Linked DNA regions of Homo sapiens. The gene in region 3 interacts genetically with the main gene of each other region. Each region holds a gene or a part of one and is shown on either strand. Other genes may lie near its edges.

The links. A genetic interaction does not mean that the proteins touch.
Region 1: changes in PTAR1 (region 3) and COG5 are lethal when combined (synthetic lethality), as found in Homo sapiens cells (one study listed by BioGRID).
Region 2: changes in PTAR1 (region 3) and RABL3 are lethal when combined (synthetic lethality), as found in Homo sapiens cells (one study listed by BioGRID).
Region 4: changes in PTAR1 (region 3) and VPS54 are lethal when combined (synthetic lethality), as found in Homo sapiens cells (one study listed by BioGRID).

What each region holds. Positions count from the first base shown.
Region 1 is NC_000007.14:107,231,921-107,235,420, reverse strand, and holds part of COG5 (conserved oligomeric Golgi complex subunit 5), read left to right. Parts: intron 1-1,208; exon of another isoform or gene 1,209-1,339; intron 1,340-3,500.
Region 2 is NC_000003.12:120,736,017-120,739,516, reverse strand, and holds part of RABL3 (rab-like protein 3), read left to right. Parts: intron 1-849; exon of another isoform or gene 850-990; intron 991-3,500. UniProt on the Homo sapiens protein: Required for KRAS signaling regulation and modulation of cell proliferation. Regulator of KRAS prenylation, and probably prenylation of other small GTPases. Required for lymphocyte development and function. Not required for myeloid cell development.
Region 3 is NC_000009.12:69,732,512-69,736,011, forward strand, and holds part of PTAR1 (protein prenyltransferase alpha subunit repeat-containing protein 1), read right to left. Parts: intron 1,744-3,500; coding exon 1,639-1,743; intron 1-1,638.
Region 4 is NC_000002.12:63,894,540-63,897,428, reverse strand, and holds part of VPS54 (vacuolar protein sorting-associated protein 54), read left to right. Parts: intron 1-2,889. UniProt on the Homo sapiens protein: Acts as a component of the GARP complex that is involved in retrograde transport from early and late endosomes to the trans-Golgi network (TGN).

The DNA of each region.
Region 1 (3,500 bases), on a different chromosome or scaffold from region 3:
GTAAAATCATTTTTAAGCCTTTCAAAGCTGTTAGCTTTACTAGTCCAAATAGTTACTGAAATGAATTCTTCATAGCAATTTGCCAGATCCTCCCCACTTATAAAGATAAATGTTAATGTCAATATTTATTCTTGTGTGTATCCGGGAGTGTGTCTTGCTTCATTATTTCTACATGGAGGAAAGGACCTGGACAGACTGCTTGTATCAAGTCAGTGGTTGTCAGGTGCTCCCTCAGACTTGACACACTTTCAAAAAAGGAACAGGTAACACAAACCTAAACTTTCAAGAGCCTGTTTCATTGCAAATTGACTGATGCAGCAGTTAGTCATTTTCATCTCCAAATAATATTCCTGGGACCATTAGACCATAGAAATGAGCCTTCATTTGGAAAATATGCTTGTAGTAGCCACAGCATAAAAACAGAGATTAAACGTTACCATTAATATGGCTCTTTTTACCTTTTACATTTTATGAACTTCATTCTTAGGCACCTGTACATTTAACTTTGTTTTACAGGTACACTTGGCTTAAAGAAAGTTATTTGTAAATAGTGTCTTATTTGTCCCTTACTGGGGTTCCAGATTGCTTATTAAAAACCTGATGATGTACTAGAACCTCCTCTTATTTGTTTAAAAAAAAAAAGTGTGAACTATACTCAGATGGTCTCTGTTCTCCTCTTCCCCTTTCCTCCTTAATTTTGTTTTTCTTTTTGTTTCATCTTCTTTCCCTGGGCTCTCTCCCCTACCAGCTTATTTGCATTCTGCTCCAGCTGGTTCTTGAGTCACTTTCCTGGAGGCAGCACTTCAAGTCCAATTAGAGTGGCAGCCGAGCAGGAGATGGCCAAAACGAGAGTGCTGTAGGAGAGAGGCTTGTTTTTGTTTTTTATTTTAATATGTTCCCTTATGGGTCCTGAAAGATGGAAAGTATTGTCCTTTAACCCTTGCTACTGCCGCTAACACCTGCTCAAAATGCATAGCATCCAGAGGCAGGGGTGAGCTTCCACCTTTCAAAAAACTGCATTATTCAAAATGTTATTTGGCATCCTTTTTTCTTAAGACATGTTGTCTAATAAGCCAAACTTTTCTGGGTCCCTTCCCTTAAGGTAAATTAAACTCATCAGTCATTATTACTAACTTATGCTCAAAGGCCTCTTGTTTCCTGTTTTTTAAACATAGAAGAAGCATTTACACACACAGCATTTACTCACTGTTAAGCCCTGCAGTGACATTTGGTTGCAGCAGGCAGTGTGGTATTGAAAAGCAGATTCCTTTGTTCACCCCTGTACAGTGTGTCCCAGTTTCAAAACATCCTGACACTCACCTTGGGGATGGCTCCAGTCCTGTGGATCATGGGTACAGAAAAGACAGGCGGAGGCACTATCATAATTAATCATATCTGTGATCATTATCTTTGGCAAATATTGTTCTACTGTTATGTCATGGTCTCCCCCACCCACTTTTTAAATTAAAATTAAAATTTCAAGGTTTTATTTCGTTTGGTTTGGTTTCTTGCCACAATTGCAATTATTTGTTGTACCTCAGCTTTTAGCATCACATTTGGTTGAAAGTGTTTTTCGAGGGTCAGTCAAAACATTTAAATAGCATTACTCTAACATTTATATTCATGACAGGCATCAACTGGGGACTAGAGGGCTTTTCAACTGCCTTATTACTGAAAGTTCTATCAATTCATATTCAAAATTAAAGCCATTGAGGTCACTGAAATCAAAAATACACAAATACTCCATGGGTTTAAAAACTGTTCTTGTGATAAAAGTGCCTGCCATTCTAGCATAAATAACAAAAAGAGCTCAAGAAGGGACCTATAGACCAGGTTTGGGAATACTAGTTATTTGCCGTAAAGTCCAATTGCAAAGAGAGATAATGACGTATTTTCAGGATTTCTTTAAGAATCCTAACTTCTCCTCACTGGCACCAGTGCAGGAAAGAGAAAGTAGTTGCAGGGTGCCATCTGGAGGGATCATGGTGAGGGAAGTACCTGACATCCAGCCCCCTTAGGAATCCAGGTCATGGGCACGAGGTGGTTTCCTACAGGTAATTAATTCCCCACTGTGACCACATGGTCTCAGTGCCTACACTGATCACACAGCAGTTCTGAAATCACTAAGCCTGTCCACGACACTGGGGTTCTGCTGATTCTGAATCTCACTGGGATCTTGCCCACAGTGTCCTCTGAAGCACATACTCCCCCTCCACCCCTCAGTTTATTTTCTTAGCTGAAGGAAAGAGTGGCTATTGAAGTTGGTATTAAATTATTTAGTGGTACTTCTAGCAATTTCTATTTATAGGTCTTCTGGTGCCCTTTAAGCATACATTTATATCTATTTCACTTTGTGCCTAAAAATATTAATTTAGAAAAGAAAACAAGACAATCAAAATTCTAATTTTTGTTCTAATTCCTATTGCCTTTTCTTCTCCTGAACAATGTCAGGGCAGGAGTACCCTAGGAGTATCCAAAGAAGTCCTGTGGTTAACCAAATGTCTGTGGTAGGGAAGGAACAGCTATGTAATTAGTTCACCGTGCCTGCAGCTGACCGCTCATTCTCTCCAAACGGGGGCTGGAGAGAAGCAGTTGCACATGCCACTTTTGTATCCGCTGCTAATGGCAGAGTCACCTCCTCTTACCACAACACTCTTGCCCTTTAAAACATGGCCTTTATTGTTTAATGGAATTCTGGAAGAAGAAAATGATTTACAATATCCTAGAGGTCCTTTATGGATAAAAAAATTTTATTTTAAACATTAAACATTTTGAAATTGTCCTGCGGCATAGAAATCTTTTGCATAATCATACATTTTCCAGCCATTCGAGGTCATATTTTCTCATATCGTAACTTTTTCCTAGCCATTTATTTGTTTTAACATTTGGTCCTGCTCAAGTGCTAAGGCAAAGGTTGTCTTTGAAGACAGTGATTCCACTAGAGTAGTTGAGAAATTGACAAAAACACTTCGTGAAAAATATATAATTTCAGTATGTAAAAAACCATTATATAGAGAGAGGTATTTGAATGGAATTATATCAAAGATACAGTGATAATCACATTTTTCCTTTGTGCTCAGTGTAAAGTAAGTGACACATATGGAAAGAAAACAGAAATTCCTACCCAGTGAATAAATGAAACAGGTTCCAAAGAACAGCCTATCACCTACTGTCTTTTGAGTTGGGCACACTGGCTCACAGCTGTTCTGTTTTGCATTGTTGGCAAGAATCCTTTTTCTTCCTTACATTTTTATCTTTATATTTATTTATGATTCTTCATTTTATAGTTTCCCAGCCATATAAGGTTTCCTTCTAGGACATGCAGTATGCAATCCATGTCTTTAATATGTTATGAGAGAAATTAACCTGGTTACTGTTCATCCTCAAGACCATCCCAAGGAAGCTTCTCCAACTCTCTCGACACTGAGGTCATAAGTTTGACATAGCACTTATCATTTTGCTTAATAAGAATCATTATGTGTGTATGTATGTGTGTTTAT
Region 2 (3,500 bases), on a different chromosome or scaffold from region 3:
GAGTAGATCAACAGAGAATTTATGAGAGGAAAAACAACTGATTTGCCAGAATAATCATAATGATAATCTTTGATCTTTATCAGAAAGTAAAGAAATGCAGACTAAAGCAAGCTGTCACTCCCCCACTGCCCGCCACCACCGAGACGGATTGTTGCTCTGTCACCCAGGCTGGAGTGCAGTGGCGCAATCTCGGCTCACTGCAGCCTCTGCCTCCTGGGTTCAAGTGATTCTCTTGCCTCAGCCTCCCAAGTAGCTGGGATTACAGGCACCCACCACCACGCCCAGCTAATTTTTGTATTTTTAGTAGAGACAGGGTTTCACCATTTTGGCCAGGCTGGTCTCGAACTCCTGACCTCGTGATCTGCCTGCCTCAGCCTCCCAAAGTGCTGGGATTACAGGTGTGAGCCAACGCACCTGGCCAAGATGTCACTTTTATTCCTTTATCAGGTTAACAAGGATGAAAAGCCAACTACATGATACTGTTGAGGTGCAACAAGACCTGCAGGCTCAAGTGTATGGCTGGTGGCAGTATAACCCCATGAAAGTTATTTCTCAATGCATATCAAGAACTTTAAATGTTTCCTTTTAAGTACTGAGTTTACTCCTGGGAAGGTATACTAAGGACATAATTTTAATTTTAAACAAAGGTTTAAACAGAAATAACCTTTCACTAGCATATCAAAAATTTCAAAACACCCTAAATATCTAATAATAATGGAAGAATGATTAAGTAAATTTTTATGCCTACTTTCTGAAGTACTATGGAGATACTTTAAATGTTTATGAAGATTTTGGAATAATATGGAAACTTTTAATAAATACTAATTAAGGTTCTGATCTAAATACTAGAGATAAAAAAGCTGCGTAAGAACCCTCAAGGAACTTAAAATTAAGGGAGTGGTTCCAAGATGACCAATTAGGAACAGCTCCAGTCTACAGCTCCCAGCGTGAGCGACGCAGAAGACAGGTGATTTCTGCATTTCCAACGAGGTACCAAGTTCATTTCACTGGGGCTTGTCAGACCGTGGGGGCAGGACAGTGGGTGCAGCCCACTGTGTGTGAGCCAAAGAAGCGCAAGGAGTCAGGGAATTCCCTTTCCTAGCCAAGGGAAGCGGTGACAGACAGCACCTGGAAAATTGGGTCCCTCCCACCCTAATACTGTGCTTTTCCAATGGTCTTAGCAAACAGCACACCAGGAGATTATATCTCTGACCTGGCTCAGAGGGTGCCACACCCACGGAGCCTTGCTCATTGCTAGCACAGCAGTCTGAGATCTGCAAGGTGGCAGTGAGGCTGGGGGAGGGGCGCCCGCCATTGATGAAGCTTGAGTAAGTAAACAAAGAGGCCAGGAAGCTCGAACTGGGTGGAGCCCACCGCAGCTCAAGGAGGCCTGTGTGCCTCTGTAGACTCCACCTCGGAGGGCAGGGCATAGCCTGAAACCTCTGCAGACTTAAATGTCCCTGTCGGACAGCTTTGAAGTGAGTAGTGGTTCTCCCAGCACAGAGTTTGAGAACAGACAGATTGCCCCCTCAAGTGGGTCCCTGACCCCCGAGTAGCCTAACTGGGAGGCACCCTCCAGTAGGGGCAGACTGACACCTCACATGGCCCAGTACCCCGCTGAGAAAAAGCTTCCAGAGGAATGAATGATCAGGCAGCAACATTTGCTGTTCAGCAATATTCGCTGTTCTGCCACCTCTGCTGCTGATGCCCAGGCAAACAGGGTCTGGAGCGGACCTCCATCAAAATCCAACAGACCTGCAGCTGAGGGTCCTGACTGTTAGAAGGAAAACTGACAAACAGAAAGGACATCCACAACAAAACCCCATCTGTCCGACTCCATCATCAAAGACCAAAGGTAGATAAAACCACAAAGATGGGGAAAAAACAGAGCAGAAAAGCTGAAAAGTCTAAAAATCAGAGCACCTCTCCCCCTGCAAAGAAACGCAGCTCCTCGCCAGCAAAGGAACAAAGCTGGATGGAGAATGACTTTCACAAGTTGAGAGAAGAAGTCTTCAGATGATCAAACTTCTCCGAGCTAAAGGACGAAGTTCAAACCCATTGCAAAGAAGCTAAAAACCTTGAAAAAAGATTAGCTGAATGGCTAACTAGAATAACCAATGTAGAGAAGTCCTTAAATGACCTGTTGGAGCTGAAAACCATGGCACAAGAACTACGTGATGATGCACAAGCTTCAGTAGCCGATTTGATCAACTGGAAGAAAGGGTATCAGTGATGGAAGATCAAATGTATGAAATTAAGTGAGAAGAGAAGTTTAGAGAAAAAAGAGTAAAAAGAACGAACAAAGGCTCCAAGAAATATGGGACTATGTGCAAATACCAAATCTATGTCTGATTGGTGTACCTGAAAGTGACAGGGAGAATGGAACCAAGTTGGAAAACACTCTGCAGGATATTATCCAGGAGAAGTTCCCCAACGTAGCAAGGCAGGCCAACATTCAAATTCAGGAAATACAGAGAACGCCACAAAGATACTCCTCAAGAGGAGCAACTCCAAGACATGTAATTGTCAGATTCACCAAAGTTGAAATGAAGGAAAAAATGTTAAGGGCAGCCAGAGAGAAAAGTCAGGTTACCCACAAAGGGAAGCCCATCAGCGTATCTCTCAGCAGAAACTCTACAAACCAGAAGAGAGTGAGGACCAATATTCAACATTCTTAAAGAAAAGAATTTTCAACCCAGAATTTCATATCCAGCCAAACTAAGCTTCATAAATGAAGGAGAAATAAAATACTTGACAGACAAGCAAATGCTGAGAGATTTTGTCACCACCAGGCCTGCCCTAAAAGAGCTCCTGAAGGAAGCACTAAACATGGAAAGGAACAACTGGTACCAGCCACTGCAAAAACATGCCAAATTGTAAAGACCATTGAGGCTAGGAAGAAACTGCATCAACTAATGAGCAAAATAACCAGCTAACATCATGATGACAGGATCAAATTCACACATAACAATATTAACCTTAAATGTAAGTGGGCTAAATGCTCCAATTAAAAGACAGACTGGCAAATTGTCAAGACCCATCAGTGTGCTGTATTCAGGAGACCCAGCTCATGTACAGAGACACACATAGGCTCAAAATAAAGGGATGGAGGAAGATCTACCAAGCAAATGGAAAACAAAAAAAGGCAGGGTTTGCAATCCTAGTTTCTGATAAAACAGACTTTAAACAACAAAGATCAAAAGAGACAAAGAAGGCCATTACATAATGGTAAAGGGATCAATTCAACAAGAACAGCTAACTATCCTAAACATATATGCACCCAATACAGGAGCACCCAGATTCATAAAGCAAGTCCTTGGAGACCTACAAAGACACTTAGACTCCCACGCAATAAAAATGGGAGACTTTAACACCCCACTGTCAACATTAGACAGATCAACAAGACAGAAAGTTAACAAGCATATCCAGGAATTGAACTCACCTCTGCACCAAGCGGACCTAATAGACCTCTACAGAACTCTCCATCCCAAATCAACAGA
Region 3 (3,500 bases):
TGTTGTTTATGATGATACTAATTTAGCAGTATGGATGAAGGGTGGAAAATGGATAAACAGGAAAAAAAAAAAACTTTAAAATCTGTAATACAGAGAATGTCATTACTTCTAAAATGACAATCCCAAAACTCCACTTGGCCAGGAAATGTAAAGGCAATTGGTGTGTGTGTGTGTGGTCGTGGTGAGAGGTCATAAATTAATGGCTGATAAATATTATAAGGAGTCATGATTCACATCTTTAAGTATATATGCATGCCTCACCCTATGTGCATTTGTTTGCAAACAAGAAGCTGCATTCTGATAGCTTTCATTCAGCAAAATTCTGTATTATAGCATAAAATCTGGAAGGTAACAAATATAATTCATTAAACCATTAAGAAGGTGTCAAAATATCCTTATCCACAAATTCTCCCTTTGTCTGTTTAAGATTTGCATTAACATGTATTTACATAAAAAACACTAAATAGTGTTTCGAGCTACTTAATGTGTTTACTTTGTACCAGTAATTTACTTATATAAAAGCATTTTTTAGACTAAAGATTTCAAACCCAAAGGTACAGGAAATTAAGTAAGAAAACTCACTTTGTCATTTTAAAATAATGGAATTTCTTATTTAACAACAAAATATTGCTTGATAAAAAAAATTAGACAAGCCAAACTGATGGATGCATATTTAACAGTTCCTTTCCCCTGCCACCATCCCTTTCCAAACCCCCATACACACAGTCATATACCCTTCTGTGGTATACTATCTCAATTTCTGGTGATGAAGAAAATATAACTGACTATGTGGTTTGGAAGAAGCTGACCTGCAATGTTAACTAAAGGCACGATTACCACTAAGACACCTGGAACGGACATAAGATCCTAAAAATGCCCACGATTTAAGAAAAATTAGAGTGGCTTAATAAACTGAGAATTTCAGAGTGACTTCTTCATTGGTCCTGACTAGCAAGCCCACACCATCCCATTTTGGTCAAATAAGAGTAGTTACACAGGGTCCAAGAGGAAGATGGTTCCAGGTGGCCAGGATTTTGAGAGTCCTAAAGTGCATTCTGGCTATCTGTCCCATGCTTTTAACCTAAAAATGTTCTTTGTATGTATGGATTTTAGCAACTTTAGCTCAGCCTACACAGCATTCGCTTCAGCTGCCCTCAGCTTTCTCTGTAAGTTAATTTTAATAACCACAACCATCACCACCAACATCTTTACCAGGAAAACAACCAAATGCTTTTAAAATCCATATTGCTCATTACAGTTGAGTATCTATAAATGCAATGCCCACAACTGCTTCAAAGAGTTAATAATAGCTAACATTTATTGAGTATTTAATATGTGCCAGGCACTGTGGGAGTGTTACATGCATTAACTCACGTAAACTTGACTGTTAACTATATGAGACAGGTGTAATTATTATTCTCATTTTACAAATGAGAAAACTGAGGCTTGGTGAGTTAAGTAATTTCCCATGAACACTTAGGTAGCAAGTTATATAGCTCCTAGATTTAAATGTAGGTAACCTGACTTCAGAATTCATGCTCTGGAACCAATAAGTAACCTTGCCTCTCACATGTCATGTTTCTTTCTCCAGCCAGTCTGAATCCTAAGTAAGAGTACTATGTTGTAAATTAACCACACCTGTGAATCCATGTTTCTGGACTCTTTGGAAACTTGGTTAAGGCGAGTTTTCCCAGATGTAAATCCTTAATTGGATTTAAAGTGCCAGAGAGGATCAGCTCTTTCCTGTAAAAAAAAAAAAAAAAAAAAAAAAAAATTAAACATTACTTTATCCTTATATCCAAAGGTTCTACATGGCTTTTAATATAATCTCATTGTGAAGCGAATGTCTAAGAATTTTAAAACAAAAAAAGAAAGAAAAAAAGCCCAAGCCACTCTGGGATATAAAACACTCATAAATGTGACATGCAGTAATCAAGAATGTATTCTCATAATCCCAATATAACAAACTAATAAGCAGAAAGAGAAGCTCTTAAATCAACAGATTTTAACGATTTTTAAATCTTAACTATTTGCGTGAGGGTAAATGGGGTTTTCTGGCCTATCTCATTTCCAAAAGTTGTGAGACCTGATATCGTACCTATAGGGCCAATCCAATACCAGCCAAAATTGGTCTAGTTTCCTAAATAGGACTTGACATGGTCTATTTCATTACAAAACCACACATACAACAAACACAATATGGTTGAGATGTAAGGGAAAAAAAAATCATTCATGGAATCACTATTCTAACCAAATTACTATTTTTTATTTTTGAATTTTCCCTTCTACTTTTCCCTATCACACATACATTTTAACATATAATTTTACATCCTGCTCTCATTATATCTTAAGAATTTCCCCATGATTCTATATAATCTTTGTAATGAACATTTTAAATGATCAAATTAGTTTTCATTTAGAAGCTATGCTTTTCCCTTCTTGTTAGACATTTAGGTTGCGTCAAACTTTTTGTTATTTTAAAACAAATCTGGGCAGGGGAAGCTTTGTGCTTATAACTTCTTTCTTTTGTATTCTTACTTTGGATAAGTTTCCAAAAGAGCTATTAACAAGGTAAAATACTTACATGACCCTTGATATACGAGGCCATTCCTTTTTAAAATATTAATATAAGCAGCAGAAGTAATAGCAATGTAATGTTTTGGTTGTTTTTAAAACTGTTCAAGCCCAACCAAAGCTTCAATGCAATCAGTTGTCCCTTGGTATCTTGTGGGGGCTTGGTTCAGGACCTCCCAAGGATACCAAAATCTGCGAATGCTCAAGTCCTTGATATAAAATGTGTTGCCATATAACCTACACACATCCTCCCATATACTTCATATCATCTCTAGATTACTTATAATACCTAATACAATGTAAATGCTATATAAATAGTTGTTACATTATTCAGGGACTAATGATAGGAAAACAAAGTCTGAACATGTTCGCTACAGAAAGCAATTTTTTCCCCAAATATTTTCTATCTGCGGTTGGTTGAATCCATGGATGCAGAACCTACAGATACAGAGGGCCAACTATATAAAGAATGTCATGCAAGAGCTTTCTATACCTGTTTCTCAGGTAAATACAATTTACATTTAATTTCTCAGGTAAGTTTTTGATAAGTGCTGATATTACACTCTCACTGAATTCTCAATGTATCTATAATTTTATAATAAAATCAGATCATTTGTTATTATTTATCTTAAAATGTCCTTCCTGTGTAGGGCTGATTATTCATTTATTTTAGAGAAGTTTAAGCCAGAGAAAACCAGAATCCAGCTCTTATACCATATCTACTTAGACGGACTTAATTCCTAAATACCACAATACATTTTCTTTCCAACAGTGACATACTATTTATAAAGTTTTATTTGATAAAGAAAACAACTATTTTCCTTTCAATGTTCAGGAAACCAATTTGTCATTATATATATATAATATATATATAAAATATATATTTTTTTCTTGCAACAGCCAATTGCTTTTGCAGTCTTGGATTA
Region 4 (2,889 bases), on a different chromosome or scaffold from region 3:
TTGTGCCATCCTTTTCTGCTGTAATCACACTGAAGACCAACGTTGTAAAATCAGCAAGCTTTTGTGTTTTTTTTTTCCCCTGTGGAAATATCTGTTTCTATCTAACTATCTAAAAGGGGTTTATACATGGACAATTGCTTACCTGACGTTATGTATCTGTTTTGAGGCAGTGTGAATTAGTAGCACTTCCTTAGTTACCCAATAGCTTTCCCTATTCCAAACAGGATTCAGAAGTCCTACTGTGTGACCATGTGAATGTCACTTAACCTGTGTGCCACATTTATAAAATAACAAGGATGAAATCTGTCTTAATTCTTTCACAGGGTTATGAAAAATAATATATGTGTGTATATGTATATATTTTATTGTAAGCTATTGAAAGATTGTATATATTACTGTAAAATAGCATAGTACATAGAAAGCATAGGGTAGGACTTAGAATCTGAAAACTTGGGTTAAGTTCTAGTTCTGTCACTTACTAGCTGTTGTAACTTTGGGCAAATCACTTACTCCCCCTCAGCTTAGGTTTTTTAGATTTGAAAATAGGGATGATGATAAAAGTTTCCTTAATAGGATTTTTTGAAGAGTTATGTAGATAAAGATATGGGGAAGAGATTTTATAAAATTTAAAGCACTGATCATTTAGTTACGTATTAATATCAATTCTTTAGTGTTCTAGGGTTTTTAGGAATAAAATTTTATTTCCTGTTAAAGGAATTTCAGGCTCAAATTTCAAACTTATAAGAACAAATGGAAAATGAAAAAAATGTATGTTGGGGTCAGAAGTTGGCCCTGCCATTTAAGAAGAAGTACAGTGAATCAATTTTGCAAAGAGCTATGTGAAAGCTTCATTCTGTTGAATCTGTTAGGCTGAATTTAAGAGTTTTATGCAAGAATGATAGTCTTATTATCTGATTCTTCTTTTTCTTTTTAAAGAATTATTTGTTTTCAAAAATTTCAAAGCCATGGAACACTTAAAGGACAATAATGAACACTGAATAGCTTTTACCTAGATTTATCAACTGTTAAAATTTTGCCACATACTCTCTGCCACTTTTGCTCCTTCTCCCTCCCACCCCCATACCTCCCTTTTGACAAACAACCAAAAAAGTAGGCTGCAGTCATAAAATTTAACCCTTAAATACTTTGGCATGTGTCTCTAAAAACAAGGACATTTTTATACAACCGTAATACCTGAACCCCACCTAAGAAAATCAACATTAATAGCGTTATACCAACATAGAGTCAGATATTTTCAGCAAGAACATCACATGTGGTGACGCTGTGTATATCTCTCACTTGATGTCAGATGATACAAATGGTACATACATAAGAGACCTGCTCCTGAAAAGATAATAGCATATTAGAAACTTAGGAGACTCTTGGTAGAGATGTATACTGGGTACCTTAAAGAGGCTGTTCAAAAAAAGCTAATAATATTTTTAAGGCCTAACCCTGCTCATACCCTTTTACTTTTATTCCCATAACTAAATCTGGGTTGGTTAGTTGGGTTTTTGTAGACCAGTAGTTCTGAAGCACCCAAGCTAACTCGTTAGCTGTTACTTTTCTTTCTTAATATAGCTATTTGGAAGTCAGTCTGACCTTAGAGAATCCTCACTGTCACATGCTAACAGAAACTCATTCTTTATAAGTCAATTCATGTCTTTGAAATATCCCTGAAGATTAACCTCTACCCTGTAGCCAAGGACATAAACTACCTGCTTAAAAGTTTTTGTTTCTGAAATTGCTCTAAAAATGTAGCTTTTGACTTTTTTTGAGGTGAAATTCACATAACATAAAATTAACTATTTTAAAGTGAACAATTCAGTGGCACTTAGTGTCTTCACAGTGATGCGTAACCGCCACCTCTATCTAGTTCCAAACATTTTCACTACTCCAAAAGAAAATCCTGTACCCATTAGGCAGCTGCTTCCTATTTCTCCCTCTCCCCAGCCCTGTACTTTGATTTTATTTTGAGATGGAGTATCACTCTGTCACACAGGCTGGAGCGCAGTGGCGTGATCTCAGCTCACTGCAACCTCCACCTCCCAGGTTCAAGCAATTCTCCTGCCTCAGCCTCCCAAGTAGCTGGGATTACAGGCACGTGCCACCACGCCTGGCTACTTTTTGTATTTTTAGTAGAGACGGTTTTACCATGTTGGCCAGGCTGGTCTTAAACTCCTGACCTCAGGTGATCTGCCTGCCTCGGCCTCCCAAAGTGCTGGGATTATAGGTATGAGCCACTGCACCCGGCCCAGCTCTGTACTTTTTAATGTGATTTTTTTTCCTCTAAGATATTTTAAAAATAGACACATACAGAGAATAATAAATTATTTATATTTCTACTACCCAGAATTGATCAACATTTGTCATTTTCTCTTGAAAAAAATATTTATTGTATTTTTAAAATGGTATTCAAAAAATTGCATTCCAGATGAAGCTAAGTACACCTTTACACCCCATCTGCAGTCCGATTCCCTTTTTCTCCCAGCCTTTAGGTAACATTTCCAGTGAATTTAGTCTACATTCTTTTAGTCTTATTTATTGTACCTAGATTTATGAAAAATATGTAGTGCTGTTTTGTAAATTTACTTATATGGTATATTGCATATATGCAGCTTGCTTTCTACTAGGCATTTTTACTGATTTATCTATGTTGATATATGTTTAGTAGTCTGTTTTTGACTGCTGTACAGTATTCCATCAAACAACCTTTTTTTTTTTTTTGGAGACAGGGTCTCATGGTCACACAGGCTGGAGGGCAGTGGTGTGATCATGGCTCACTGCAGCCTCAACCTCCGTGGCTCAAGCAATCCTCCCACTGCAGACTCCCCAATAACTGCGACTACAGGTGTGTGGCACCACACCCAGCTAATTTTTTTAATTTTT